7 linked regions of the Homo sapiens genome follow. The protein of the gene in region 4 purifies or fractionates together with the protein of the main gene of each other region. This does not show direct contact. Each region holds a gene or a part of one and is shown on either strand. Other genes may lie near its edges. The genes, in order: POF1B, JUP, SERPINA12, GMCL1, DSC2, A2ML1 and SULT2B1.

Evidence for each region.
Region 1: the proteins of GMCL1 (region 4) and POF1B purify together in Homo sapiens (affinity purification with mass spectrometry; 3 studies listed by BioGRID and IntAct, with this or other methods). This does not show direct contact.
Region 2: the proteins of GMCL1 (region 4) and JUP purify together in Homo sapiens (affinity purification with mass spectrometry; 3 studies listed by BioGRID and IntAct, with this or other methods). This does not show direct contact.
Region 3: the proteins of GMCL1 (region 4) and SERPINA12 purify together in Homo sapiens (affinity purification with mass spectrometry; 3 studies listed by BioGRID and IntAct, with this or other methods). This does not show direct contact.
Region 5: the proteins of GMCL1 (region 4) and DSC2 purify together in Homo sapiens (affinity purification with mass spectrometry; 3 studies listed by BioGRID and IntAct, with this or other methods). This does not show direct contact.
Region 6: the proteins of GMCL1 (region 4) and A2ML1 purify together in Homo sapiens (affinity purification with mass spectrometry; 3 studies listed by BioGRID and IntAct, with this or other methods). This does not show direct contact.
Region 7: the proteins of GMCL1 (region 4) and SULT2B1 purify together in Homo sapiens (affinity purification with mass spectrometry; 3 studies listed by BioGRID and IntAct, with this or other methods). This does not show direct contact.

The regions. Positions count from the first base shown.
Region 1 is NC_000023.11:85,299,666-85,303,165, forward strand, and holds part of POF1B (protein POF1B), read right to left. Parts: intron 1-3,500. UniProt on the Homo sapiens protein: Plays a key role in the organization of epithelial monolayers by regulating the actin cytoskeleton. May be involved in ovary development.
Region 2 is NC_000017.11:41,780,212-41,783,711, forward strand, and holds part of JUP (junction plakoglobin), read right to left. Parts: intron 1-3,500. UniProt on the Homo sapiens protein: Common junctional plaque protein. The membrane-associated plaques are architectural elements in an important strategic position to influence the arrangement and function of both the cytoskeleton and the cells within the tissue.
Region 3 is NC_000014.9:94,492,470-94,495,969, reverse strand, and holds part of SERPINA12 (serpin A12 precursor), read left to right. Parts: intron 1-3,500. UniProt on the Homo sapiens protein: Adipokine that modulates insulin action by specifically inhibiting its target protease KLK7 in white adipose tissues.
Region 4 is NC_000002.12:69,843,160-69,846,659, reverse strand, and holds part of GMCL1 (germ cell-less protein-like 1), read right to left. Parts: coding exon 3,399-3,500; intron 2,530-3,398; coding exon 2,464-2,529; intron 2,076-2,463; exon of another isoform or gene 1,793-2,075; intron 1-1,792. UniProt on the Homo sapiens protein: Possible function in spermatogenesis. Enhances the degradation of MDM2 and increases the amount of p53 probably by modulating the nucleocytoplasmic transport.
Region 5 is NC_000018.10:31,058,340-31,061,380, reverse strand, and holds the end of DSC2 (desmocollin-2 isoform Dsc2a preproprotein), read left to right. Parts: 3' UTR 1-2,541; downstream 2,542-3,041. UniProt on the Homo sapiens protein: A component of desmosome cell-cell junctions which are required for positive regulation of cellular adhesion.
Region 6 is NC_000012.12:8,825,621-8,829,120, reverse strand, and holds part of A2ML1 (alpha-2-macroglobulin-like protein 1 isoform 1 precursor), read right to left. Parts: intron 1-3,500. UniProt on the Homo sapiens protein: Is able to inhibit all four classes of proteinases by a unique 'trapping' mechanism. This protein has a peptide stretch, called the 'bait region' which contains specific cleavage sites for different proteinases.
Region 7 is NC_000019.10:48,555,172-48,558,671, forward strand, and holds part of SULT2B1 (sulfotransferase 2B1), read left to right. Parts: intron 1-3,500. UniProt on the Homo sapiens protein: Sulfotransferase that utilizes 3'-phospho-5'-adenylyl sulfate (PAPS) as sulfonate donor to catalyze the sulfate conjugation. Responsible for the sulfation of cholesterol.

The sequences.
Region 1 (3,500 bases), on a different chromosome or scaffold from region 4:
GGCTAATTTTTTTTTTGTATTTTTAGTAGAGACGGGGTTTCACCATGTTAGCCAGGATGGTCTCAATCTCCTGACCTCGTGATCCATCCACCTCGGCCTCCCAAAGTGCTGGGATTACAGGCGTGAGCCACCGCGCCCGACCCTTAAAACAATCTGGGTAAAACCCAGGAGCCTGGCAGCAACTAGAAGACAAAACAAGGTTAGAGCTCCTTCAAAGCCACATTGTCGTTATAATTGTCATTGTTTGATTTGTCTGTTGATTCTGTGGAAAACTCCACTTGCAAGGATGCCTTTTAAAACTTGACTCGTAGCTCAACCAATTTGCAAATCCTTTTTCCTGGGAACATTTGTCGAAAATAATGTGTGGAAATTGTTTAATATCACAACTACCTGAGGTGGCTATAATAGTTCAGGCAGACAAGAAATTGACCAAAAATGATAAAAGGAAAAACTGAGAAATAAATTGTCCATAGTGGGCTTTGAAAATTTGTTATATGTTCCTGGGAATCTAGAAAGCCACAGGCATGTGTAGGGCTTTGTACATGCCCAAGGCTGTACGCATGTGAAGGAAAGACCTGAGAAAATCCTGAGCCCTCAGTACTGGCTAACCTTAAAACTCTGTGTAAGCAGGAACTGGGGGCTAAGGACGAGCTATAAATTGCCTACCAGAACATTGAAGAGGTGTCCAAACACAGACAAAGAGCCTCTCAGTGAAAACTAGGAGACTTACTAGTTTCATGTTTGTAACGAAACCTCTGTTTAAATGTTAACTGACCACTAAGATAAATGAGCAGAGACTTCAGTGACCACATATGAAAAGAATACAGACTTTATAGAATTAAATCAGAAAAGCCACTAAGCAAAAGACAATAACATCAACAGCAAATAATAGCAACAATGAACACCTTGGCAGGAGGGAGTATCTAATTTCCAGAGTTACCACATTATATTATTTTCAATGTCACGTTTTCAATAAAAAATTATAAGACATGCAAAGAAACAAGAAAATATTGCCTATCATGGAAAAAATCACTTGAAACTATCCATTAAGAAGCCAGATGTTGCATTTACATAGCCTTTAAATTGGCTATTTTAAGTATGCTCAAAGAACTAAAGAACTAAAGGAAAGGATGAGAGTTGTGGCTTATGGAATAAAGAACATTATTAAAGAAAGAGAAATTACTTTTAAGAGAAACTACAGTAATTCTGAGGTAAAAAAGATAATAACTAGATTTAAATTTCTCAACAGCCGATGTAAGCAAATGGAAGAAAGAATCAACAAATTGCAAAGAAGGTCCGTTGAGTTTATCTATTCTGAGGAACAGAAAGAAAAAAGAATGAAGAAAAATAAACAGAGCCTCAGAACATTCTGTTCTGTTTATGGGGACTCCACAAGGAGAGGGAGGAAAGTGGCAGGAATGATAGCTGAAGAAATGTCTGAAAACTTCCCAGATTTGATTAAAAATATCAATCTGCACATCAAAGAAGCTCAGCAAATGCCAAATAGTGAAAAATAAGAGATCCAAACCTTGACACATAATAATCAAACAGTCAAGGGCCATAGAAAAAAATAATCTTGAAAGCAGTAAAAAAGAAACATGTCAGGGGGATCCTCAATTAAAAATTATCAACTGATTTCTCATCAGAAATTATAGAGGCCAGAAGGCAATGGGATGACATATTCCAAGTAACAAAAAAACACTGTCAGCTGAGAATTATTTTATCCAGCAAAACCATTCTTCAAAAATGAAGGAAAAGCAATATATTCCCATACAAGCAAAAACCCAAAGAATTTGTCACTGCAAAACCTGTTCTACAAGAAATACTAAAGGGAGTCCTACAAGAAATACTAAAGGAGTCCTTCAGGCTGAAATTTAAGGACTCTATACAGCATCCCAAATCCATTTGAAGAAATAAAGATCACCAGTAAAGGTAACTATACAGGTAAATATTAATTAAATTTCTGGGGGAAACCTAAGGGGAAAAACTCAGAAAATATAGTAAAAGTAACTAAAATGGAATTAAAATGTTACTGTAGAAAATATTTTACACAGAAGAAGGCAGGAATGGAGGAACAGAAGAACAAAAAACATAAGACATAGAAACAAATAGCAAAATAGCTAATGTAAATTCTAACTTATGAATTACATTAAATGTAAGTGCATTAAATATTCCAGCTAAAAGCAGAGATTGGCAGAATGTATAAAAAGATACAACCATGTGTGGTTTACAAGAGTCACAGTTTAGAATCAAATACACAAATAGGTCAAAAATGAAAGGACAGAAAAAGATATTTCATACAATTAGTAACCAGAAGACAGTTTATATTAATATAAGACAAAATACTTATGAATGTAAAATTTATGATCTTGGGTTAGTCAACAGTTTCTTGTATATAATACCAAAAGCACAAGCAAGAAAAAATATAGATGAATTGGATTTTTTTCTATATTAAATACTTATGCTGCATATTATACTCTCAAGATAGTGAAAAGACAACCCATGGAATTGATGAAAATATTTGCAAATCTTGTCTCTGATAAGGGACTTGTGAACATGTGAAAATCTCTTGCAATTCAACTATAAAAAGACAACTCACTTAAAAAATGGAAAAAAATTGAATGGACATTTCTTCAAACAAGATGTATAAATGGCCAATAAGCACATAAAAATTGCTAAAAAACATTAGTTATTAGGGAATACAAATCAAAACTCCAATTGGATACCACTTTCCACCACCTAGGATGGCCATAATCCAAGAGATGAACAATAACAAATGGCAACGAGGATGGGGAGAAAGTGGAACCGTCATACACTACTAGGAATGTATGATGGTGCTTTTGCTTTAGAAAACAGTATGGCAATTCCTTAAGCATAGAGTTATCATGTGACCTATCAATTCCACTCCTAGGTATATACTCAAAAGAAATGAATACATGTACCTTACACACTTGTACACAGACGTTCACAGCAGCATTATTCACAATAGCCAAAAATTGAAAACAACCCAAATGTCCAACTGATTAATCAATAAATAAAATGTATATCCATACAACTGGATATTATTTAGCAACCAAAAGGAATGAAGTCTTGACTCATGCTAAATCATGCTTGCATCCTGCAAACATTATGCAAAATGAAAAATCCAGACACAAAAGACTATATGTTGTATTATTTCATTTATATGAAATATCCAAAATAGACTTCTGCTGAAGCTATTCATAATTACTTTATATTTGGTTTTGCTAAATGGCTGGAATGTAATTTGTGGTCATATTGCTACCGTGAGGGTAGACCTTACCTGATTAAGATGTCTACACAGGAAAGAGCAGAGCCAAGATATAAAGAAAGACATATTTATAAAGGCATATTTTGAACACACAAATCCATCTGGATACCAAGTAACCCCATTTAAGTGAATTTAAAAAGTCCCAGTTTACATTGGGTCTCTTGTCACATGAAACAGAAAGAGTCCTAACTAATGTGGTTGGTTAAAAAAA
Region 2 (3,500 bases), on a different chromosome or scaffold from region 4:
CATAGCAAGACCCTGTCTCTACACAAAACTTTAAAAATTAGCTGGGCATGGTGGTGCACACCTGTGGACCCAGCTACTTGGGAGGCTGGGCGGGAGGATTGCTTGAACCCAGGAATTCAAGGATGCAGTGAGCTGTGATCACGCCACTGCACTCTAGCCTAAGGGACAGAGCGAGTCCCTACCTCAAAAAAAGGAAAGAAGGCCGGGCGCAGTGGCTCACGCCTGTAATCCCAGCACTTTGGGAGGCTGAGGTGGGTGGATCACTTGAGGTCAGGAATTCAAGACCAGCCTGGCCAACATAGTGACACCCCCATCTCTACTAAAAATACAAAAATTAGCTGGGCATGGTGGCGCATGCCTGTAGTCCCAGCTACTTAGGAGGATGAGGCAGGAGAATTGCTTGAACCTAGGAGGCAGAGGTTGCAGTGAGCCAAGACTGCACTACTGCACTCCAGCCTGGGCGACAGAGCAGGACTCCATCTCAAAAAACAAACCAAAAAAAAAAAAGAAAGAAAAGAGAAGAGGAGAAGGGAGGAGGAAAGAAAGCTGAGTGCCAAAAGCGGTGGCTCACGCTTATAATCCCAGCATGTCGGGAGGCCAAGGTGAGTGGATCACCTGAGGTCAGGAGTTCAAGACCAGCCTGACCAATATGGTGAAACCCCGTCTCTACTAAAAATACAAAAATTAGGCCGGGCACAGTGGCTCACGCCTGTAATCCCAGCACTTTGGGAGGCCGAGGCGGGTGGATCATGAGGTCAGGAGATCGAGACCATCCTGGCAAACACAGTGAAACCCCGTCTCTACTAAAAACACAAAAAAATTAGCCAGGCGTGGTGGCGGGCGCCTGTAGTCCCAGCTACTCGGGAGGCTAAGGCAGGAGAATGGTGTGAACCCAGGGGGCGGAGCTTGCAGCGAGCGGAGATCGTGCCACTGCACTCCAGCCTGGGCGACAGAGTGAGTGAGACTCCGTCTCAAAAAAAAAAAAAAAAAAAAATTAGCTGGGCGTACTGGCAGGCGCTTGTAGTCCCAGCTACGCGGGAGGCTGAGACAGGAGAATCACCTGAACCCGGGAGATGGAGGTTGCAGTGAGCCAAGATTGTGCCACTACACTCCAGTCTGGGTGACAGAGTGAGAGACTCCATCTCAAAAAAAAAAAAAGAAAGAAAGAAAGAGAAAAAGAAAGCTGAGCTTCCTGCTCTGCTGGCCCCAAAGGCCAAGATGCCAGGAGGCTGAGCAAAGGAGAGTGGTCCATGAGCTTGCCCTTCAGGCCTGGCAGAGGAAGTCGCTTCACAATAAGATATTCCATGTCCCCAGACTCAACCATGTCCCAGGAGAGGCCGCTCAGTGTCACTTGCAGGAACACAAGCCCTGGTGACCTGCCCAGCCACACTGCTTGCTTTTCCTCTTCACAGGGGTCACAGGACCAGCTCACAGATGCCTTTCCCTCTCACTGCCAGGTCGCTCTTCTCCCAAAAGATACAAATGAGGAGTCTCCCCAAAGGGCAGCAATTCCTGTCTGGCCTCCCTGCCGCACAGGATGGCCCTCATCAGAGAAGAGTCAATGCTGAGTCTCCACCTCTCCCTCTTATTTCTCAACTCAAGATTTCATCTTTAGCAGGCAGAAAGCCCCTCCTCCTGTCTAGACTGCGTCCCTTCAGTAAGTGCATCGGGCCTGCAGCTCTCAAGTCCTCGGGGGAGATGGAAAAACTGCAACCTCATGCCCTCTTTGTAGTAGTCAGTGGGATGGGGTTCATTCTGTTTTCTTCTCTGTCTCAAGTCCCATTAGCCTTCTCCACGATCAATAATCCCGTTGCCTGGGGTCCCCGCCTGCCCTCAGGGAATCCAGAAGCGCGGTAGTGACAGGTTCAGTACTCCGGCTGCACCATCACATAAAGAGAACCCATTTCCCAGACCCCAAATCCAGGCCCATTCTGGTGTCAGATGTCCAGTTGGCAGAGACACCAGAACCAGGCAGGTCTGGAGAACAATCTGACACCAGCTCCTCCCTAGAGGGCCAAGGCTCTGGCTGACAGGCAGCACACATGACCCCCACCTCCATCACCAGAAAAGCCCTCCCAGCAGCTGCCTATCTCAGGTCTCTTGGGCTTCAGAGCAGAGGACAGCCAGTTCCCCATCAAGAGCAGCCTGGCAGCACTGCCTCGTCAACTCCAGCAGGACATTAGCCCAGGCCTAAATCGGACTCTCGTTTCTCGCCAATCCCCACAGGGCAGCACCCCTTTATCTTGGCATAGCCCCAGCCCCCAGCAAAGCAGGCAACTCCCACTTCCTACACATGAACAAGCCCAGAACAGCCATGGTTCTACCTAACCCAAGCTAGGAGGCAGCACAGCTTTGACCCCTGCCTCCTCTTTCCCTCTCAACCTCCCCCCAACACTCACCACAGCCCTGGCCTTGGGGAGAAGCCGCTTCCACCGGAAACTAAAAATCAAGCCACTGGGGAGATTTAAGTGGGCTGGTGGCCAGGACAGGTATCACCCCCACCTACAAAACCTGCCCTACATTCACCACTCACACATGCCTTCATGGGCCCTTCTGAATTCTCTTCTCCCCAGTCAGGCAGAGGCTCTCAAAAGGGGGTGCAGAAAAATCCTTTCCGCTCACACCTGTAATCCCAGCACTTTGGGAGGCTGAGGCGGGCGGATCTCCTGAAGGTCAGGAGTTCGAGACCATCCTGACCAACATGGTGAAACCCCATCTCTACTAAAAATACAAAAATTAGCCTAGTGTGGTGGTGCATGCCTGTAATCCCAGCTACTCGGGAGGCTGAGACAGGAGAATCGCTTGAACCCAGGAGGTAGACGTTACAGTGAGCCGAGATCGCGCCACTGCACTCCAGCCTGGGTGGCAGAGCGTGACTCCATCTCAAAAAAAAAAAAAAAATCCTTTCCAGAGCTGCATGGGGCAATACAGCAGGATGGGTTCTGGGCTTGGAATCAGAGGACCCAAACGTCAGTCTTGGTGCTGCTTGGGTCTCGCTGTACAACATTGGGGAAATTACTTAAGTTCCTTGAGTTTCAATTTCCTCCTCTGTAGAATGCGAATAATGATACGCGTTTTTTTTGTTTTTTTTTTTTTTTTGAGTCAGGGACTCACTCTGTTGCCCAGGCTGGAATACAGTGACACAGCTCACTGCAGCCTTGACTTCCCTGGGCTCAGGTAATCCTCCCACCTCAACATTCCCAGTAGCTGGGACCACAGGCATGCACCACCACGCCCGGCTAATTTTTCTATTTTTTTGTAGAGACAGGGTTTCTCCATGTTGCCCAGGCTGGTCTGGAACTCCTGGGCTCAATCAAGCAGTCCACCCTTCTGGGCCTCCTAACGTGCTGGGATTGCAGGTCTGAGCCATCCAGCCTGGCCAGCCATAAGGATTAAGTAAAAATAGTTAATGAAAGTGCTTGGTTTGGGCCAGGTGAGGTGGCTCACGCCTGTAATCCCAGCACTTTGGGAGGCCGGGGCGGGCGAATCACGAGGTCAGG
Region 3 (3,500 bases), on a different chromosome or scaffold from region 4:
CAACAAAACCCATGAAGTATCCAAAGTAAGTTATACAAATAATAGTTGAAGAATAAAAGAGAGTAAATATTTTTCTTTTTAAAACATAAACTGATATTAGATTAATGCTAAGCCTACAGAATTCCTCCCAGGCACTTGCTTACTGATAGATTTTGGGGGAAAAGGTAAGAGTTGGTGTTGGGTTTAAGTCTTGGGGACTTAGTGTCAGCGTGGACATACATAGTGCCTTGAAAGTGGCTGGGCTAGTGGCCTCTAGTAGCCAGAGCAGTGAAGGGGATGTAGCAGAGTGGGCAGTTTCCACTTGGACAGGTGTCAGATGTCCTCTTCTCTGTTCTCTTTCCCTCTTCCACCTTGTCCCTGTCATCATTCCCCATGCATCTCCATAAAGGTATTTACTAAGAACCTCTGCCACACCTAACGTCCTGTCAGGCACCAAGGACGGTACCAAGAGAGGTACAGATGATGCTAGGACTGAGCTTAGTAACCCATGGGTGGTAACTGAACTGATGCAACTCTTTTCATGCAGAACACTGTCTTGGAGGCATTCCAGAATGCATCTCTTATATCTAGAGTGAGCTGCAGACTTAAGAAAGGGAAATTCTGGCCGGGCGCGGTGGCTCACGCCTGTAATCCCAGCACTTTGGGAGGCCGAGGCGGGCGGATCACGAGGTCAGGAGATCGAGACCATCCCGGCTAAAACGGTGAAACCCTGTCTCTACTAAAAATACAAAAAATTAGCCGGGCGTAGTGGCGGGCGCCTGTAGTCCCAGCTACTTGGGAGGCTGAGGCAGGAGAATGGCATGAACCCGGGAGGCGGAGCTTGCAGTGAGCCGAGATCCCGCCACTGCACTCCAGCCTGGGCGACAGAGCGAGACTCCATCTCAAAAAAAAAAAAAAAAAAAAAAGAAAGGGAAATTCTGATTCCGAATGCTTCCAATTAAGTCATGGTACTGGGATGGAGGAGCCAAGTAGCAGAGCATCCCAAGAGCGTTGCCATCCCTTGAGATCTGCATAGTCTCACCTGCCCTTCCCACTGGGAACCAGGGAGGTGGAAGGGTTGGCAGAGTCTGGCCACTGAAACAAAAGGAGGGGTCCAGGTTACAACCTTTAGCTGAGACCTGGTCTTCTCATCTATGGTGTGTGGCCATAATATCGCCAACACCACAGTACTCTTGAGAGAATTAAATGTGCCTTAGCACAGCATTGCCCCACAGAAAACATATCCAAATGCAAATTCCTCTTTCCTTCCCATTGTCTAAAGAGGCAGAGCTCCAAGGTTCTCAGCAGAACTTTTGAACTTCTGGTTTATTGAATGACAGGTGTCCTGCAAATCTGACCCTCTTACCCTCAGGTTGAAGCCCTAGGGTGGCTGCTCTTCCACTGCAGAAGATGTTCCCAGTGGGAGGGGCGGGTGAGGCTGTGCAGATCTCGAGGGATGGCAGCGCTCTTGGAATGCCCTGTCACTTAGCTCCCCCCTTCCATAAATGTGACTTTATTGAAAGCATTCAGAACCAGAATTTTCCTTTCTCAAGCCTGCAGCTCACTCTAGATATCAGAGATGCATTCTGCAATGCCTCCAAGCCATGTTCCGTGTGAAAGGAGTCACATCAGTTCAGTTCAGTTACCACCCACGGGTTCCCCCATGTTGTCTCAACATGGGGACATCCCCAAAGGGACTGACGTGTTTCAGCCTGCACTCTACAGATTTTTAGAGTTCACAGAGATGTCTTGAGAGATCTCCCTAGGGAACTGGGGGGTGTAGAACATGAAGAGAAGGTAAGAAATGGGAGGGATGCCAGGTCTTCCACCCCACTTCATCCAGAAGTCTGGCTTTGTGAGACATGGACTCCAGAATATGACATTTCCCGTAGGACTCAAATTACAGTGGCTTGAGACTCTGCAGTTGATTTGCTGGAACTCACTGTCCTGAGTGCACTCCACCCCTATCTCCAAGCCATGTCTGACAATTTCTCCATGGGGCTACAGCTCAGGTGCTACACTGGGGGCTTCACATTCCCCTCACTGAGGCCCTCTGCAGCCCCTGGTGCTGTGACCACCATCAGGCCACCACCAACCACACAGATGTTCCCTGGGCACTGCCACCATCTCTCTGGCTTCAGGCTTCATCTCCTTTTGCACCTTTACACAAGAGTGAAATAGAACCTTTGAGATTTTCTGTAGGCTAGTGCCAGACTTCCTGGAGGTTTGGGAATAACAGAACCAAAGCTCCTCACAGGGACCCAGGATAACTTACAGCGCACAGAAGCGGCGTCTTGTGAAGTCCAAGTGTAAGCTGCTCTCAGTGGCGTCTCGTGAAGTCCAAGTGTAGAGTGTAGGCTGCTCTCAGTGGTGTCTTGTGGAGTCCAGGTGTAAAGTGCAGGCTGCTCTCAGTGGCGTCTTGTGAAGTCCAAGTGTAGGCTGCTCTCAGCATCTCTTCCAGGGCACCTCCTTCCATTTTTCTAGTGCCTGGTCTGCCTCCCCCATCCCTCTGGGACTGCTTTCCGCATCTCCTTGACTTGAGGCCAGGCCTCCCCACCAGGAGGGCCATAGAAAGGAAGGTTCCTCTCACCCCAGGGATGTCTTGCCTACCCAGTCACTTCTGGCCTTGGAATGACAGACAGGGTATTGTCCACCTTCCCGAGAAGAAACTCCAAATCCTCTTGCAGGACAGGGGGCTTGCTCACCGTCCCCAGGGAATTACATTTCATTAGAACATGATAGGAACAAACATTCCTACCTTCTGAGCTCATTATTTCTGGGAGATAAGTGGTCAAGTTGCTTTGATCTACAGGTGGGAAGCCTAGTCCAGAGAGCTCAGTGGCCCGCTATGGGAGAGCAGAGGTGGACGGGCTATCCCTATGCATTCTTTCTGCAGTCCTCTCCAGACTGGAGGGCCTAGAAGACACTGAGCAGAAAAATCACCTTTTCCCTAAAAGAAGTAACCAAGTCAACAGACACACACCAACTTACATGTGTGTAGAACATGTCAGAATTTAGGCTTCGGATGACTTCCACCTGGCCTCTGTGCAGGAGGCAGACACCTGCTTTGGATTTGCATAATTTGAGGCCAGGTGCTGCTCTGATTTCCCCAGAGGAAAAGCTCTGTTTCCCAGGGTCCACCTTTAGGAGCAGAAAACTGCTGGTGGCTTTGAAATAGCCATTGTCCTGTTCAGAAGTGTCGAGGGTCCACTCCCAGCCTGGGTGCCCCCCACACATTTCCGTACATATTGGTATATGCACTCACCTGTCAGCACAGCTGCACTTAGTGCCTTCCCACGTTGGCACAAACTAAAGCCGATCTCCTCATTTACGCACTGGACCTACGGCCCCCTGCTACTCAGGAACATCACCCTAGAAATCCTCTCCTCACTTTCCTACATCAGCATATGTTTTTCTCTCTTCTGAATCATTTCCATCAGATACAAAGATGCCCTTATCTTTCCTATCATGAAACCTCGCAGGGGGCCAGGGAAAACTTACAGCTCATAGAAGTGGCTTCT
Region 4 (3,500 bases):
CCTTTGTTCTTTCTTTCCTTTGAGCCATAAAAAGCCAAGAGAGCACGTGGGTTTTTAAGAGGATCCTGCTCCTTTTTCAAAAAGTTCAGTGAGAAATTAGAGTCATCCCCCTGTATCTGTGGGGGATTGGTTTCAGAACCTCCTACAAATACCAAAATCCTCTATGCTCAAGTCCCTTATATAAAATGGCATAGTATTTGCATGTAACCTATGCACATCCTCTCATATACTTTAAATCATCTCTAGGTGTTCTTACAGTACCTAATACAATGTAAATGTTATGCAATAGTTGTCATACTACATTGGGTTTTTTTGTTATTATTTTTTATAGTTTTTCCCCCAAATCTTTTCAATCGGCAGTTGGTAGAATCCACAAATGGAGAACCCATGGATAAGCAGGGTTGACTGTATTAAAGTGTTTCTAACGATTTTCAAATCAAACATTCTACGGTGATTTATTTATGCCTTGACATCACCAGGTGATGAAAGTCTCTCACACTTCTCTACCAAATTATCTCGTAAAGGCAAAAGAAAGGAAAAAAACCCCATAATCTAGGAGGTGGTCTAACCATAAAAAGTAACATTTCTATAAATTGTATCTTGAGAGTTCAAGGAAATTTGAATTCCCTCTATTCCATAATGTATTTAAACATAAAAATATTTACCTCTTCCCCACCTCCTCCCCACCAAAAAAAAAAAAAAAATCAGTAAAATTCACATTCTGGGAAGCTATGTAATGTTTGACTTTGGTTTTGTACATTTCCATCAGAATGTCACATACTCTCGGACACATTTGTATCCTTGTCTCAGAAGCACTGCTGTCAGGGAAATGCAAGCCAGAAAATGACTGTAATGCCAACCAGCCTTCAAAAGTTAACTGCTAGCCAGATTTTCTCAGACCCATCACAAATATCTTAGTCCCATTACTACAAATAAGCTCTTTGACAGCAAGAGACCATGACAAAATCATCTCTGCATTCTTCACAGCCCCTAATAGAGTATCTTTACATATAAAGGACAGTCAGGAAGTACTTGCTGCAGGAATAAATGGATAATATGCGTACTTAATCCAAAAAGCCAAACTAAGCTGGGTGCAGTGGTATGTGCCTATAATCCCTGCTACTTGGAGGCTGAGGCAGGAGGACTGCTTGAGCTCAGGAGTTTGAGTCTAGCCTGGGCAACATACCAAGGCCCCCATCTCTTTAAAAAAGAAAGGCTGCTCTGCAGCTTGGGTGGTGGGCAGGGTGGGCAGTCCTCATTGTCACCGCCATATTTCTTGTAGGTTTTTAGAACCCTGGAATCCATTTCTCACGGGTGACTGCGGTCCTATTATTCCAGCTTGGACTACATAGTCCACAGGTGATGGAGAAATCTTGGACCTCTGGCTCCATCTCCAGGACCTCTGGCTCTGCGCTGTGCTGCGTCTGACCAGGTCCCGCTTGAGGACGAAGGCGGCGCAGTTGACTGCAGGAGCCTCTGCAGCCCCAGCCTGAAGCCTGCATGGGACCCTGTGTGGCGCTAACAGGTTTTTTTTAAAGGAAGATTGATATTTTCTCAAAGAGAGGGGATGTCACTATGTTGCCCAGGATGATCTCGAACTCCTAGATTCAAGCAATCCTCCCACCTTGGCCTCCCAAAGTGCTGGGATTATAGGTCTAGGTTTTCCCAAATCGCTTTTCTGGTAGAGAAACCCTGAGGACTGATTGGCTTTTGCTTGTCTAAAACCATGGCCTGTGAATTTGTAACATTCAGGGACATGGCCACAGACTTCTCTCATCAGGAGTGGGAATACCTTGACCTGGTTCAGAAGACCTTGTACCAGGAGGTGACGGTGAAGAACCATGGTAACTTGTCTCACTCTCACTGAGGCTGGAGAGCAGTGTCGCAATCACAGCTCACTGCAACCTTGACCTCTATGGCTTAAGCAATCCTCCTGCCTCAGCCTCCAGAGTAGCTGGGACTACAGATTTGGATTCAAGGTGTGAAATAATCAGAGATGGAAAAATATACATTTATAGGAGACACACATTTGTTACTCCACATCAGAGAATTCATCCTAGTGAGAAAACGGATCAACATGAAAAGTTTTTGAAGGTAAAAAAAAAAAAAAAAAAAGGCCAAAACAGTTTCTTCAAACTTATTTCTCAATAAAAAAGATGATTTTTAAAATATAACTTTTAAATTCTCTAACAGCCTGGCAAAACCTGAAACTTTTCTATAGTCTTATAACAGTAATGCATTTTTCGGTTAAAACAGTAGACATAATATCCATTATATTATTCACAACAAAGAAATAAGTTTGCACAGCATTTCTTCAGTTTATGGATGTAGTCAAGCCCTTTCATTAAATTGTTTGCTTTTTCATAATATATTTTTGTGTTCTACAAAAATGTTATGTACTTTAACAAATGATAAACAATATTTTAGGATGACTAATTATGAAGTTACTTGAAATTCAAATACCTGAGTTCTTTAAAAAGTTCAACATTCTGGTGAGTCATCAAATTGTTTAGAAGCCATTCAAGGCACCTGAAATTAAAATATATAATTATTACATTATATGCCATGTATTTACAATTTATTAAGTAGGACTTATAGTTAAAATAAAATCAGATTAATCTTGCCAGAACATGCTCAAAACTTTTAGCTTAACAATAGGAAATTTAGTATTATTTTTGTCAGTGGATATTATTAAGAGAATATTTCCTTTATATTAACGAGAGCATTTCCAGTTTTAAAACTTCATTTTGAGTTTGTGTTAAATAGTTTATTAAGGGGTCTGCATACTAGTATAACCTTCTTTAAAATCTCAAAACAGGTACTGCAACTCTCAAGAGTTAGAAGGACTGTCAGTCTATCAGGCCTACTTCTTAAACAATTTTAATAGAAAATATACTATAAAGTGCAGTGGCATGATCACGGCTCATTGCAGTCTTGAACCTCCTGGGCTCAAAGAATCCTCTGACCTCAGCCTCCAGAATAGTGGGGACCACAGGTGCATGCCACCATGCCTGGCTAATTTTTAAAATTTTTTGTAGAGATGGGGTCTCCCTACATTGCTCAGGCTGGTCTTAATCTCCTGGGCCCAAGTGATCTTTCTGCCTTGGCCTCCCAAACCACTGGGATTACAGGTGTTAGCCACCACACCCGACCAAGGTGACCATGGTTTTTATAAGCATGTATATAACCCACCTATGGTCACTTACAAAGACGACACTTTTGAGGAATTTACTAATTAGTCCAAAAGTTAAAAGGGGCTTTTTATTTAATAAAATTCCATCCCCCTATCCTATTTTTCCTTAATTCTTTCTTTCTTATAGCTATACATTCTCTTAAGAAACTAAAGCAACCAAATTCCTAAAAGTGGGATAGGAAGAAAAACAAGAAAGGCAACTCACTTTTTCTTTACAGAATCTAATCCATAGGTCCCTGCTGATGTGTAATAGCCACATACAGTTTTCACATTAACTGTTTCCTTCATTGTCTCACCACACTGCTGT
Region 5 (3,041 bases), on a different chromosome or scaffold from region 4:
TCCCTTTGTGACTGTACCTTTGTATCCCTACAGAAAATCTGGGCATAGCTGAGAGGTTAGAATTGTGGAGTTTCTGCTAGCCACATCTTTTCTGTTTACTTATTTTGTTAGGATTCAAGGGAGAGGACAGAGCAGAACACTCACTGCTTTTCAGTTAACAAATATGAAGGCAAACTTGCTGATATATTCGCTTGTATAATTTTTAGAGTGTGTTTCACTGACCATCAGCATCAGAATCACCCTGGTGTTGCTGAAAATAGAGATCCCTCATGAATCAGTCACAGGAGTAACAGGCTAGTAGGGGAAAAGTATAGAAGCCTTCACTTTTCAATACATTTTCTAGGTCATTTTTTCTTACTCTAAAGTTTGACAATCGTTAGGGTTTTAGTAACTGGGTTTATTGATTATTTGGTGGTTTATGAAACTTAAGTATTTAAAATTTGCCTTTTCATATAAAACATATTAAGCAAAATGCTAGAAATGTACCAAAGAGTTGAAACACATTGATGAGTAAAATTTCACAATGTCTGCAAATTAAGCATTTCAGAATGTACATTGTTCCCTGTGGTTTCTACTTTCTACATGCATGTGAACGAGAGAAATAGTCTTAAGGTAGGAATGCAGAACAAAGCCACACAGAAAACATTTAATAAAAATTAACAAGTTTTGCCACATAAATGCTGCTAGTCAAGAAGATGTATGCAAAGTAAGTTGCATATATTTTTAAAAATCAGAATTGCCAAATCTCCAGAGATAAATAGAACTAGAAAGGTCAACAGCAGGTGGAACAAGTGACTGTCCAGAAGGCAGCAACTGTTTGGCATCACTGTGCTGTTGTGTGGGGACCTGTGTCAGGTGGGGTAACAGGTAATGCTCACTGACTGTGGCGGCCAGGAGCTTCAGAGGGGCCTGTGAATCAGGGATGGGAGATGAGGGTAGAGACGAGACTTTTCAGCTTAAGGAGTGTTCCCCTGGGAACAGGGCCAATTGGAAAACTCCCAGGCACCAAGGACATGAGTTAACCAATAGGGAATGAGAGGCTCAGAAAGCCAGAGGTGAAAGGAGCAGAGGGTGTCAATATACACAAGATGTGATGCAGAATTACCAATGAAATCAAGTAAAAGGGATTTATCCAAAAGAAGTAAGAGAATAGTGTAAAGATTCTACTCACATGCAAGGATGTTTGTCTCAGTGGCATTAAATATATGAATAACTGAAAATAAACTAAATGTTCCATGACAGGGAAGTAATTAAATGATGTATGATCCATTACTGTGATACAATGTACCATAATTGAGGACAATGGAAACAATGATCACACACAGACTTCGCAGTCAGAAAGACGTGGATCCAAATCTCAGCTTTGTTCTTGCTGTGTTACCTTGGGAAATCACAGAAACCTCAAATTTCTAGCATATCAAATAAGGACAAATTAGGAATAAATTATATAATTCACATAAAGATCCTAGCTTACTGCTTGGCTCATCAGTATATCAATAACCAGCAGCTATCACTATTGTGATATGATGATGGAATATCATGCAATCATTTTATTTTGAAAACTTTAATTAAATGGGAAAAGACATAAACTATAGTAGTATTTTAAAACTAGGATAGGTTTCCAAATTATTATAATCTCACATTTAAATAAATATGAGACTATCTGTAATACACTAAGATATTGAGTGATAAATCCTCGGTAAATGAAATATTTATTCATTGTGTGTTTCCATGTTTTCATTTTACCACAAGCATTTATAATTTATAACATTGAGGGAAAAGTTCATGTAAATGAAATACAGAGCAAGAAAAACTCACAGGCTTTAGAATTTGGGGAGCTTACAGGCCTGTGAAGAAAAGCCTTTTCATCTTAGCTTTAATAAATAAAGTTTTCACTGAACATATTATATTTACAGTAAATGATTAAATTGAAAGCAAAAAGAAAATACTGTATCATCTCACATTATCATAACTGAGTGCATTCATGTGCTTTTGGTCTTAAAATTTTACTTTAACGCACTTAGGATTTGTCGTCAGTAATTTGTTATGCACTATCTAGACTAAGAATAGGTATTAATTTACTAGAATTGTCAAATGAAATATTTCAAGCAAAGTTTGCATAATGAATGCAAGTTTAAACCAATTAAATGTGTTCACTTTTTAGCAAGCTAAGCTGCTCCTTATTTCTCCTGTAGTAGACACAATCACAGTTAATCTTTGCACAATGCATCGCATTCTCCATGCAACCTAACAGAGCGGTCTGGGATAGAGCCTGAACTTTGGGTCCCTTGGGGCCCAACAGGCAAGGTTCAGATCTGGGCTCTACCACAAACCATCTGTGTAACCTGAACCTCCCTAGTCTTCAGTTTCCTCATCTGCTTTAAAAAATTGCTAGAACATAGTTCTATGTAAATGTTCGGTGTTAAAATTTATTTGGTATCTACTGTATGTAAGATATGGCCTCTGCTCTCAAAAATATGTAGTCCCAGAAGTGATATAATATGTTCACGGAGACGTACTATTAAAAAGTGCCACAAAAAATCTGTAATGGAATGTTCTTACAAATATTACGTGTGCGTGTGTGTGTGTGTGTGTGTGTGTGTGTGTGACCTTTTTTAGCAAGAGATGTCCCAATCCCTTCACATTTACATCATTACAGAATTCCTTTGGAATCAATGGCAAATGTCCTCCTGTGGGGAGCCAGGTGTACTGTGAGTTTCTGTTATCATTCAGGGAAGAAAGCTGTCAAAAGCTTGCTTGTTTTAAAATTGTAAACAAGTTAGTGCTGGACATTGGGAATTTTACCTTATTATAATAAACAAAATCAATTTTGTTACTTGTTGAGCCTTGTTCCGGCGGCAGTTTAAGTTATTTATTAAACAAATAAATTGAGTCCTTTTGAGGTTTCTTCTTAAGTTTTCTTAGGGCAGGTTTGGTGGAGACTTTAGGGCTAACTTAAGTCCTTTGCTGAGGTGTGACTCCACCAAATGTCCAGAGTTTTCAGAGGAAGATCTTTTCTTTCCACTGCCTCAAACTTCAAT
Region 6 (3,500 bases), on a different chromosome or scaffold from region 4:
GTGATCACAGTGCCTGGTTTTAACTTTATATCACTGAAAGAGGCACTGAAGAGGGTAGAAAAGACACACTTGAATTGCTGATTCACCCCCTCCCCGCCATCCCCCAGCAGTGACTGTGGTACAGAGACAGAATCGATGAGCTTGAGGGCGGGAGAGCACAGTGACTGTGGGACTTGGCTTTAGAATGCAATGCTGCCCAATCACAGGGGAAAGCACACAGGGCAGAACTCAGCCAGTGCCCATGGAGGGAGCATTTAGACCAGCGTTAGCCAGGGGTGAACTGCCCATCCCAGCGGTTGGAAGCTGAGTTCCGATTAGCCCCTGGGGCTCTAAATACTCAGCAGTGATAGCTGGGCAGTACTTGTCGTGGGCCTTGGGTGAGACTCAGAGACATGCTGGCTTCCAGTGATTCAGCACATTCCCAGCTGTGGTGACTATGGGGAGAGACTCCTTCTACTTGAGAAAAGGAGAGGGAAGAGTCAAGGGGACTTTGTCTTGCAGCTTAGGTACCAGCTCAGCCACAGTGGGGTACAGCACCAAGCAGGCCCTTGGGGTCGCCAGTTATGGGCTGTGGCTCTTGGATGCCATTTCTGGACCTGCTGTTTGTCAGAGGAGAGCTCACTGCCCTGAAAAGAGAGTCCCAGGCCAGGCACCATTCACCACAAGCTGGTGAAAGGAGACTTTGGGCCTCGAGAGAATACTGGAAGTATCCAGGCAGTACTCCTGTGGGCCTGGAGTAGTGGTGGCCACAGAGAGAGACTCCTCTGTGAAAAGGGGAAGGAAGAGTGGGAAGGACTTTGTCTTATGGCTTGGGTGCCAACTCAGCTGCAGTAGAACAGAACACCAGGTAGATTCCTAAGGTTTCTGACTCCAGGCCCTGGCTCGCAGATTACATCTCTGGACCTTCCAGGGTCATGGGGAACTCACCACCCTGAAGGGGAGGACACAAGCCTGGCTGGCTTTGTCACCTGCTGACTGTAGAGCCCTAGGGCCTTGAGCAAACATGGGCAGTAGCCAGGTACTGGTTACCACAGGCCTTGGGTGAGACACAGTACGGTGCTGGCTTCAGATCTGACCCAGTGCAGTCCCAATGCTGGTGGCCACAGGGGTGCTTGTGTCACCCCTCTCTCCAGGCAGCTCAGCACAAAGAGAGAAACTCTGTTTGTTTTGGAGAAAGTAAGGGAAGAGAACAGGAGTCTCCTCCTGGTAATCTGGAATTCTTCCAGATCTTATCCAAGACCATCAAGGAGGTACCTCTATGAGCCTTCAAGAGCCACAGAGATACTGAGCATGGGGTCCTCCCTAATGCAGATGAACTGCAGAGTCCAAACACTTAGATTACGACACCCAAGTCCCTTCAAATACCTGGAAAGTCTGCCCAAGGAGGACAGGTACAAACAAGTCCAGAATGCCAAGACTACAATAAATACCTAACTCTTCAATGCCCAGACACCAATGAACATCCACATCAAGACCATGTTGGAAAAAATTACCTCACCAGATGAACTAAATAAGGCACCAGCAACCAATCTCCCAGAAACAAAGATAGTGATCTTTCAGATCGAGAATTCAAAATAGCTGTTTTGAGGAAACTCAACAAAATTTTAGATAACACAGAGAAAGAATTCAGAATCTTATCAGATAAATTTAACAAAGAGAAAAAAAAAGAGGTATTGACTTTAAAGAGGAGGTTGAGAGAGAAAATGAGATGGAAAGTTTATTCAAAGTGAAAATAACAGAGAACTTTCCAAACCTAGAGAAAGATATCAATATTATTATTATTTGAGACAGTCTCGCTCTGTTGCCCAGGCTGGAGTGCAGTAATGTGATCTTGGCTCATGTGACCTCCGCCTCCCTGGTTCAAGTGATTCTCCTGCCTCAGCCTCCCCAGTAGCTGGGATTACAGGCACAGGCCACCTTGCTTGGCTAATTTGGTATTTTTAGTAGAGACAGGGTTTTGCCATGTTGGCCAGGCTGGTCTCGAAATACTCATCTCAGGTGATTTGCCCACCTCAGCCTCCCAAAGTGCTGGGATTACAAGCATGAGCCACTGAGCCCAGCTGAGAAAGATATCAATATTAATTACAAGATTATAGAACACCAAGCAGATTTAGCCCAAATGAGTCTACCTCAAGACATTTAATAATCAAACTCCCAAACATCAAGGAATAAAAAACAAAAAAGAATCCTAAAAGTGCAAGAAGACAGACGTGGTGGCTTACGCGTGTAACCCCAGCACTTTGGGAGGCTGAGTGGGGAGGATAACTTGAGGTCAGGAGTTGGAGACCAGCCTGGCCAACATGGCGAAACTCCATCTCTACCAAAAATACAAAAATTAGCCAGGGGTGGTGGCGCTCACCTGTAAACCCAGCTACTCGGGAGGCTGAGGCAGGAGAATCACTTGAACCCAGGAGGCAGAGGCTGCAATGAGCAACCATTTATTGCATTCCAGCCTGCGCGGCAGAATGAGACTCCATCTCAAAAAACAAAAAAACAAAAACAAAAATTAGCTGGGCATGGTGGCGCATGCCTGTACTCCCAGCTACTTGGGATGCTGAAGCACAAGAATCACTTGAACCCAGGAGGCAGAGGTTGCAGTAAGCAGTGATCCCGCCACTGCACTCCACAGCCTGGGCAACAGAGGGAGACTCTGTCTCAAAAACAAAAAAAATTCAGTAACATTTCTATATGCCAACAGGGAACAATCTGAAAAAGAAATTAAGAAAGATAATTCCATTTACAATAGCTATAAATAATATAAAATACCTAGGAATAAACTTTACCAAAGAAGTGAAAGATCTCAACAATAAAAACTATAAAATACTGATGAAAGAAATTGAAGAGGACACACAAAAACATGAAAAGAGATTTCATGTTTCTGGATTGGAAGAATTGATATTGTTAAAATTCCGTACTACCTAAGGCAATCTACAGGTTCATTGCAATCCCTATCAGAATACTAATGACATTCTTCACAGAAATTCTACATCCTAAATCTTAGGACTTTTGTAAAAAAAATCATAAAATTTTTATGGAACCATAAAAGACCTAAAATAACCAAATCTATTCTGAACAAAAAGAACAAAGCTGGAAGAATCACATTACATGACTTCAAATTATACTGCAAAGCTATAGTAACCAAAACAGCATGGTACTGTCATAAAAACAAATACATAGACCAATGGAACAGAATAGAGAACCCAGAAACATGTCTAGGGTGAACTCATTTTTGACAAAGGTGACAAGTGTATACACTGGAGAAAGCACAGGCTCTTCAATAAATGGTTCTGGGAAAATTGGATATCCATATGCAGAAGAATGAAACTAGACCCTCATCTCTCTCCATATAGAAAAATCAAGTCAAAATGGATGAAAGATTTAAATCTAATACCTCAATCTATGAAACTATTATATATAAGAAAACTTTGGGGAAACTCTCCAGAACATTGGTCTGGGCAAAGATTTCTTGAGTAATACCCAAGGAGCACAAGAAACCAAAG
Region 7 (3,500 bases), on a different chromosome or scaffold from region 4:
ACCTCGGCCTCCCAGGTTCAAGCGATTCTCCTGCCTCAGCCTCCCAAGTAGCTGGGATTACAGGCACCCGCCACCATGCCTGGCTAATTTTTATATTTTTAGTTGAGACAGGATTTCACCATGTTGGCCAGGCTGTTCTCGAACTCCTGACCTCAGGTGATCCACCCGCCTTGGTCTCCCAAAGTGCAGGGCTTACAGGCGTGAGCCACCGTGCCCGGCCTATCTACTCTATTACTTTGAATTCCCTGGCCACGCTTGTTCCCTGCCACAGTGCCTTTGCTTATCTGGCTCCTTCCATAGGGATCCCAGAGACATCTTCTCTCTCTCTCTCTCTCTCTTTGCTTATCTGGCTCCTTGCATAGGGATCCCAGAGACATCCTCTCTCTCTCTCTCTCTCTCTCTCTCTCTCTCTCTCTCTTTTGAGACAGAGCCTTGCTCTGTGGCTCACACTGGAGTGCAGTGGCACAATCTCGGCTCACTGCAATCTCTGCCTTCTGGATTCAAGTGATTCTCTTGCCTCAGCCTCCAGAGTAGCTGGGATTACAGGCATGCGCCACCACACCCAGCTAATTTTTGTTTTTTTTTGGAGATGGAGTCTTGCTCTGTCACCCAGGCTGGAGTGCAGTGATGCGAACTTGGCTCATTGCAACCTCCGCCTCCCAGGTTCAAGCGATTCTTCTGCCTCAGCCTCCTGAGTAGCTGGGATTACAGGCACACTCTACCATGCCCGGCTAATTTTTTGTATTTTAGTAGAAACGGGGTTTCACCATGTTGGCCAGGCTGGTCTTGAACTCCTGACCTCAGGTGATGTGCCCACCTCGGCCTCCCAAAGTGCTGGGATTACAGGTGTGAGCCACCGCGCCCGGCCTAATTTTTGTATCTTTAGTAGAGAAAGGGTTTCGCCACTTTCGGGACTTTGCGTGCACCAGCGCAGTGTCCTTTGCCTGGGCTGACCTCTGCCCTCTCTCCTTCCTTTGCCAAACTTCTCAGGCGTTAAGATTCAACACGGGCAATTTAGGATTTTTGGCCAGGGGAATGAGAGAATGCAGGCAGACACCCACGCCAGGTCCCAGGTCCCTGATCACGCTGGTCTAGCTTCAAATCTGCCCCGTGGCACCAAAATATTGGCCTGTTCGTGGATAGGAAATGAATGTAGGAAATCTGTGAAAAGGACGTCAAGAATGAATGAATGAATGGAGGCTCCATTAAGCAACCTCTGAGCCGGAGCTTCCAGGATGAGTCAGGGTTAGCAGACGGGGAGGAGGGGCAGGGAGTGCTGGGAAAGGGAATGGTTGGGGCACAGGGACACAGGTGGCTTCAGGAGAGTAAGGGGCAGCTGGGTCAGGAGAGGGCCAGCTGCCGTGGAAACTCCCCGTGGTGGGCCATCCTGCAGCAGACCTGAGTGGCTCTCAAATGGTTCGTTTTTTAAGCACCTCCAGGGAGAGAAACTATTGTTTTCAGAATACACGCATATGTGATTTAAAAAAAAAAAAAAAGTTGCCAGCTCAGTGGCTCACACCTGTAATCCCAGCAGTTTGGGAGGCCGAGGCAGGTGGATCCCTTGAGGTCAGGAGTTCAAGACCAGCCTGGCCAACATGGTGACACCCCATCTGTACTAAAAATAAAAAAATTAGCCAGAGTTGTGCCACACACCTGTAATCTCAGCTACTCAGGAGGTTAAGGCAGGAGAATCGCTTGAACCCAGGAGGCGGAAGTTGCAGTGACCTGAGATCCTGCCACTGTACTCCAGCCTGGGCAACAGAACAAGACTCTGTCTCAAAAAAAAAAAAGTTGTCCTAGGCCAGGCATGGTGGCTCCTGTCCATTGCAGTACTTTGGGAGGCCAAGGCAGGAGTATCATTTGAGGCCAGGAGTTCAAGACCAGACTGGACAACACAGCAAGACCCCGTCTCTAAAAAAATAAAATAAAAACCAAACAAGGAATTGACCAGAATTTAATTCAGGATAGCAGCTCAAGGGACGGGTAGATGCCACAGGAAGGGGCCCAGAGATATCAGCAAGATGCATCGCTCAGAATGTTCTAGTTTATGGGGTTCATTATGAATTATGAGAAATTTAATATGTGAGATCGGGCTCTGTGGCTCATGCCTGTAATCCCAGCACTTTGGGAGGCTGAAGTGGGCGGATCACTTGAGGTCAGGAGTTCAAGACCAGCCTGGCCAACATGGTAAAACCCCGTCTCTACTAAAAACACAAAAATTTGCCAGGCGTGGTGGCACTTGCCTGTAGTCCCAGCTACTGGAGAGGCTGAGGCAGGAGAGTTGCTTGAACCCAGGAGGCGGAGGTTGCAGTGAGCTGAGATCGCATACTGCACACCAGCTTGGGTGACAAGATTGAAACTCCATCTCAAAAAAAGAAAAAAGAAATTTAATATGTGTTCCATGTGGTCTTGTATGTAAAAAGGACTTAAAAGGATAATAAGGGCTAAATTAAAATCGTAAGAGGCCGGGCACGGTGGCTCACGCCTGTAATCCCAGAACTTTGGGAGGCCGAGGTGGGCGGATCACCTGAGGTCGATAGTTGGAGACCAGGCTGACCAACATGGAGAAACCCCGTCTCTACTAAAAATAGAAAAAAGTCAGCCGGGCATGGTGGTGCATGCCTGTAATCCCAGCTACTCGGGAGGTTGAGGCAGGAGAATCGCTTGAACCCAGGAGGCGGAGGTTGCGGTGAGTCGAGATCGTGTCATTACACTCCAGCCTGGGCAACAAGAGTGAAACTCTGTCTCAAAAAATAATTAAAATTAAAAAAATTAAAAAAAATAAAATCGTAAGAGGAAAACATTTGGCACAGGCGGTAGGCAGGATGGGCTGCTGACCCAGTAGGCTGACAAGCCCAGGATGTTATAATCCCTGTAACATCCTTGCAGTTGTTCTCAACCTGTTGAGTGCTGTCTGTATTACCTCATCTAATCCTTACAGCCGTCGGAGATTAACCCATTTTAACTACTATCATCCCCTGTAAGAGGTGAGGCCCAGAGAGGTTGAGTGACTTGCCCAGGGTCACACAGCTGCCAAGCAGGGCGTAGCCAGGATTTGAACCAGGGAAGCCTGACTGTATCACGCCCTGGATGGGGAACTTGGGGATGAGCAAGACCCGGAAGGAGCGAGATCCGGGAGGGAGACTCAGCCCAGACAGGAGGCGTTAGCAGGCGCTCTGCGGTTCCAGGCGTTTCCTTGCATTCCCTGCGTGCTGGGCTACGGAGAGTGTCAAGGCCAGAGAAGCCACGCCGGCCTTTGGACCTGGGGCGCCTCGGGCAGCCAAGGAGAGCTGCGGTGGCCGCTCCTCCCCGCGCTCTGATCTCGGGAGTCCCTGGCGCCGGCACCTTCTGATCTCTGCCTCTTATTGACGGGGAGGGCGAGGAGGGGCCAGCTCTGGTTTTACAACCCCGGCCCCACCTTCCTTAGGGAGGGCTGAGCCACATGAATGATTTTATGGCCAAAGCCCTGCCAGTCATGAGGCTGCTTTTTCTTTTTTCTT